Regions from separate parts of the Homo sapiens genome. Here region 1 is reported to be linked to region 2. The links are microRNA targets in miRTarBase. Many come from high-throughput screens and were not tested one by one. Region 2 holds a microRNA gene; the other region holds the end of a gene's coding sequence.

Region 1 (3,000 bases), not on the chromosome of region 2:
AATTTGTTCATGCCCAGTTCTATCACATTTCAGCATGAACTTAAGAAATCCATACTTATAACTTATGCTAAATCTATATAAATAAAATTCTAACACCCATCTATGATGATGATGTGGTTTCATTGTTCTTTTAAGTGTGTTTTCTAAAATTAATGTTACTATGGAAATTCAATTTTATAGATAAAATTAATTCTATTAGCATATTTTATTCCTAAGACGAAGACTCCATCTTTCTGTCTTCTACTTGGAAAAATAAATTTTGAGAGTTCTTTGCCCACCCCCTCTTTTTTTTTTTTTTGGAGACCAAGTCTTGTGCTGTCACCCAGGCTGGAGTGCAATGGCACGATTTTGGCTCACTGCAACCTCCACCTCCCGGGTTCAAGTGATTCTTGTGCCTCAGCCTCTTGAGTAGCTGGGACTACAGGCGTGTGCCACCAGGTCTAGCTAATTTTTTGTATTTTAGTACAGATGGGGTTTCACTATGTTGCCCAGGCTGGTCACAAACTCCTGAGTGCAGGCAATCTGCCCACCTTAGCCTCCCAAAGTGTCAGGATTACAGGCGTGAGCCACCATGCCCGGCACAGCTGACTTTTAATGTAAGCTCTCCTTTGTTGAATAAACTGAGTAATGTGAGGCTGGGCGCGGTGGCTCAAGCCTATAATCCCTGCACTTTGTAAGGCTGAGGCAGGTGGATCACCTGAGGTCAGGAGTTCCAGACCAGCCTGGCCAACATAATGAAACCTGTCTCTACTAAAAATACAAAAAATTAGCTGGGCATGGTGGTGCGCGCCTATAATCCCAGCTACTCAGGAGGCTGAGGAAGGAGAATTGCTTGAACCTGGGAGGCAGAGGTTGCAGTGAGCTGAGATCGCACCACCGCACTCCAGCTTGGGCAAGAGCAAAACTCCGCCTCAAAAAACAAAAAACAAAAACTGAGTAATGTGACAACTTTCCATAAAAAAATTGACCCTCCTGTCTTGTAAAAATATTCCAAAACAGATACACTATTAGTAACCAAATGCAACCATTGCTTAAAACCAGAGGAAAAAAAGTTCCATTTTCTATTTGGTTTATGAAGTCTACAACCACAATGATGTGCCTAGAGTGGTGCCTGGTCCCTTCTATGTGACAGAGTTGGCTGTGAACTGTTATCAGTAGGAAGAGTGCTTGGAATTCCTTCACTCCTGCCCTAAATCCCTTGGTCCCTACTCCATAAAGAAGGTGGTTGGAGTGGAGCACAGCCAAGGGACTGAGCAAAGACAAATGATCGGATGAAGGAAAAGAACTATGATTCTTGCCTCATAAGCAAATTAGCTTATCAGGCATACATTATTAATTTTGAAAAAAATGTATATAATTCTTAAAACTAGGGTAGATGACTTGGACACTTATGCTAACTTAAGAAAACTTCAGGGTTGGATACGATAGGGCAAAAAAAAATTCAGTTCAAGACTGGCAATGTAATAAAATGAGCACTGCCCAAAAGGAATTTGGATAGTTGTTAAAGCAACATAACTATACTTTCATGAAATATATTGGAAAAAAACAGCAGCAGTCTCAATAAAATGTAACTGCATACTATGAAACACTTAGTTACTGCTTAAGAATATGGAAGGATGTTCACTTGTAAAAGGAAATGGATGACTTAAGTGAATAACTTTCAAGTATCTGTTTTATTCAACTATCCTAGAATATGCTTTATAATTGGTTGAAACAGTATATTTTTCTTCAAACTTAGTGTGATAAATTTGTACAAAACTAAAGAGAAAACATGTCACAGACTTTAAACTGTACTCTAAATGTCTTAGGTAAGTAGACCTATATGTGGAAATGTACTTAAAAGGAAATTTATATAGATATTATAAAATTAACTCTATATTACCAAAAATCTCTGGACTATTTATAGTTAATACAAAATGAAATACTTCTGTCTGAGACAAAATTCTCCTATGGCAGATAGAATCGTCTGCAACACAGACATTATAGGAAAGGAGAATTTTGTGCTCTGCCAGCTTAGAACAGAAGTCACCTGCTGCATCAGTGCTATACATTTAAACACCTTTATTTGCATATATAAGAAAATTTTTATTTCAAAATAAGTTAATTTGATAGAATCAGGATCATTTTTCCCAGACTTGAAATTACAATGACAACCACATCACCATTCATCACATTAGAATTAATTTGTAATCTAAGCAGGATTTGTGATGACAATATTAAAATTGGTGCTATTTTTACAGAGAAAGGTGTTGGAAGGACCTTTAGATAATCTTGTTATACTGGTAACTTTCATCTTTCTAAACCATCAATTCTTCCTTACCAATAACAATCTTGCTACTAAAACCATTTGAAAAAATATTTCCCCCAAATATTTTTTCCTAAAAAACATACTGAATTTTGTGTTTATGTAATTACATAAATGCCATTGTTAAAACCAAGAACCGATCTGGTTTTGCCAAAAAGGCCTTCATATACCTAAATCTTACTTTCTTGAAGTTACACTTTTTAGTTTTGTTAATTTTCATAAAAAAATGAAGCAAAAAGTGGTAAAGCATTAGCAAGAACAACTACATGGTTCCTAAAATCCAAAATACTAAGAAAAAGAAAAAGCAGGTTTTATGGTATGATAGAATTTATTAATGGAGACAGGTGGTTTTAAAAATGGGTGAAACTTTAGATGTATGAAGCAGAGATTCATACATCTAATGTGTTGAGACGGATGAAAACACATGTAAGATTGATAAATTGTCAGATACCTGTTACCCTGATGGTTGCTCCTGCTTTGAGAAAGGAAACAGACATCAAAGGAAAGAGTTAGGAGGACAATCCGAGATCAACCAGCAACCCTAACAATTCAGTCAACAAAATGCTTTCTAAGTTACAGACAGAACCCAAGAGCAGCAATATTTGCAGGTTGTAACATAAATTCAAAAGACAATTCCAATTCCTTTTATAATTTTGTTGAATTAGGGTCCAGACTTTAGTTTTGTCTGAGGTTGA
Region 2 (3,000 bases):
GAAATGGGTCTGCTTAGAGGCTGGACTTTCCATGGCCAAGAGCCCAGAGTCCAGGAACCTGGGTTGGTTCCCCTTTAAGGTGCCTGGGGCTGTGGGGTGCCAGGACAGGGGATAAAAGGGGGTGGACTAGAGCCTGGGAAGCGGGTGACTTCACCCCCCAGCCCATTGTGCTTATTGTCATGGCAACCCAATCCTCGCTTGGAATGCGGCTGGTGCTTTGAGATGCAAAAGGAGCTGGACAAAGAGCTAGGGGCCCCAGGCCTGAGAAAAGCACCCCCCTTCCCTCTCCTTCCTGCCTCCCTTTCCCTCCCTCCCTTCTCTCTCAGGCCTGGTGAGCTCAAGGGGGGCTGGGGAAAAGCAAGGCCCCAGGCATGGTGGCACAGTGCCCACTGGCACCCTAGCACCAATGGATACTCCTATCCTGGAATCCTGGACAGGGTGAAGCTCTATGAGGGACCCCAGCTTGTGGCGGATTCTGGGGTGATCATTGACACATCCATGCGAGGGGGGCGTCTTGGTGTATTCTGCTTCTCCCAAGAAAACATAATTTGGTCCAATCTCCAGTATCGATGCAATGGTGAGGTGGCTGATTGAGATCAACCTAATCCTTCATGCCTTGTGGGAGAGCCACATCCTCTGACCTTACTTATTTCCCCTTCTTCAGACACAGTGCCTGAGGACTTTGAGCCATTCCGGAGGCAGCTGCTCCAGGGAAGGGTGTGAGGAGGAGGCCACCAGATTCAGAATTCAGAATTTTAGACCCTTTGGCCTTGGGGTCCATCCTGGAGACCCTGAGGTCTAAGCTACAGCCCCTCAGCCAACCACAGACCCTTCTCTGGCTCCCAAAAGGAGTTCAGTCCCAGAGGGGTGGTCACCCCACCCTTCAGGGGATGAGAAGTTTTCAAGGGGTATTACTCAGGCACTAACCCCAGGAAAGATGACAGCACATTGCCATAAAGTTTTGGTTGTTTTCTAAGCCAGTGCAACTGCTTATTTTAGGGATTTTCCGGGATAGGGTGGGGAAGTGGAAGGAATCGGCGAGTAGAAGAGAAAGCCTGGGAGGGTGGAAGTTAGGGATCTAGGGGAAGTTTGGCTGATTTGGGGATGCGGGTGGGGGAGGTGCTGGATGGAGTTAAGTGAAGGATAGGGTGCCTGAGGGAGGATGCCCGAAGTCCTCCCAGACCCACTTACTCACGGTGGCAGCGGCGACACTCCAGTCTATCAAAGATCCGCCGGGATGGAGAGCCAGGAGGGCGGGGGCTGCCCCGCTAGGGGTAGCGGGGAGGCCGGGGGGCCGGGGGGGCCGGAGGCCGGGACGAGTGCAATATTGGCGGGGGAAAAAACAACACTGCACCGCGTCCCGTCCCTCCCGCCCGCCCGGGGCCCGGGATCCCGCTCCCCACCGCCTGAAGCCGGCCCGACCCGGGAACCCGGGGCGCGCTGGGGAGTTGGGTTCACCTTGGAGGCCAGAGAGACTTGGCGCCCGGAAGGCAAAGGGAATGGCAAGGGGGAGGGGGGAGGGAGAACGGGAGTTTGCGGAGTCCCAGAAGGCCGCTTTCCGACGCCCGGGCGTTGCGCGCGCTTGCTCTTTAAGTACTCAGACTGCGCGGCGCGGAGCCGTCGCCATGGTGACGCGTGTCCCAGCAACCGAACTGAATGGCTGTTGCTTGGCAATGCCGGGAGTTGAGGTTTGGGGCCGCCCACCTAGCTACTCGTGTTTTCTCCGGCCTGCGAGTTGGGGGGCTCCCCGCCTCCCCGGCCCGCGCTCCCGGGCGCGCTGACGTCAGATGTCCCCACCCCGCCCAGCGCCTGCCCCAGGGTCTCGCCGCACACAAAGCTGCGCCTCGGGCGCCGCGCGGCGCGCGGGCGAGAGCTGTGGTCTCTCGCCTGCTGATCTGATGCGCTCCAATCCCGTGCCTCGCCGAAGTGTTTTTAAAGTGTTCTTTCCAACCTGTGTCTTTGGGGCTGAGAACTGTTTTCTGAATACAGGCGGAACTGCTTCCGTCGGCCTAGAGCGCAGCCTGCGACTGCGGGACCCAAGTTCCACGTGCTGCCGCGGCCTGGGATAGCTTCCTCCCCTCGTGCACTGCTGCCGCACACACCTCTTGGCTGTCGCGCATTACGCACCTCACGTGTGCTTTTGCCCCCCGCTACGTGCCTACCTGTCCCCAATACCACTCTGCTCCCCAAAGGATAGTTCTGTGTCCGTAAATCCCATTCTGTCACCCCACCTACTCTCTGCCCCCCCCTTTTTTGTTTTGAGACGGAGTCTTGCTCTGTCGCCCAGGCTGGAGTGCAATGGCGCGATCTCGGCTCACTGCAACCTCCGCCTCCCGGGTTCAAGCGATTCTCCTGCCTCAGCCTCCTGAGTAGCTGGGGTTACAGCGCCCGCCACCACGCTCGGCTAATTTTTGTAGTTTTTAGTAGAGACGAGGTTTCACCATCTTGGCCAGGCTGGTCTTGAACCCCTGACCTTGTGATCCACTCGCCTCGGCCTTCCAAAGTGTTGGGATTACGGGCGTGAGCCACCGTGCCACGCCCGATCTGCCTCTTAAGTACATAACGGCCCACACAGAACGTGTCCAACTCCCCCGCCCACGTTCCAACGTCCTCTCCCACATACCTCGGTGCCCCTTCCACATACCTCAGGACCCCACCCGCTTAGCTCCATTTCCTCCAGACGCCACCACCACGCGTCCCGGAGTGCCCCCTCCTAAAGCTCCCAGCCGTCCACCATGCTGTGCGTTCCTCCCTCCCTGGCCACGGCAGTGACCCTTCTCTCCCGGGCCCTGCTTCCCTCTCGCGGGCTCTCGCTGCCTCACTTAGGCAGCGCTGCCCTTACTCCTCTCCGCCCGGTCCGAGCGGCCCCTCAGCTTGCGCGGCCCAGCCCCGCAAGGCTCCCGGTGACCACTAGAGGGCGGGAGGAGCTCCTGGCCAGTGGTGGAGAGTGGCAAGGAAGGACCCTAGGGTTCATCGGAGCCCAGGTTTACTCCCTTAAGT

What was found. Region 2 holds the annotated microRNA hsa-miR-92b-3p (UAUUGCACUCGUCCCGGCCUCC, at 1,306-1,327, opposite strand). A microRNA usually pairs through its seed, bases 2 to 8, with sites in the 3' UTR of a target mRNA and lowers its output. Matches are read on the target gene's strand: a 7mer-m8 pairs with bases 2 to 8, a 7mer-A1 pairs with bases 2 to 7 and ends in A, and an 8mer does both.
Region 1: miRTarBase lists SYNJ1 as a target of hsa-miR-92b-3p. The part of its 3' UTR that is shown has no 7-base or 8-base seed match.

Annotation. Positions count from the first base shown.
Region 1 is chr21:32,632,105-32,635,104 of GRCh38, forward strand. It overlaps SYNJ1 (synaptojanin 1), which reads right to left. Exons shown (of 33, transcript NM_203446.3): 32 at 2,757-2,780. The coding sequence ends at 2,760. Among named protein-coding and RNA genes, the nearest start is that of CFAP298-TCP10L, 21 kb to the left of the region's middle.
Region 2 is chr1:155,193,564-155,196,563 of GRCh38, reverse strand. It overlaps MIR92B (microRNA 92b), which reads right to left and starts at 1,387; the gene lies at 1,292-1,387. THBS3 (thrombospondin 3) reads left to right here. Exons shown (of 23, transcript NM_007112.5): 22 at 438-577; 23 at 665-976. The coding sequence ends at 723. THBS3-AS1 (THBS3 antisense RNA 1) reads right to left here and starts at 1,567. Exons shown (of 6, transcript NR_183238.1): 1 at 1,192-1,567. RefSeq lists an enhancer at 1-398 and a silencer at 1,555-1,884.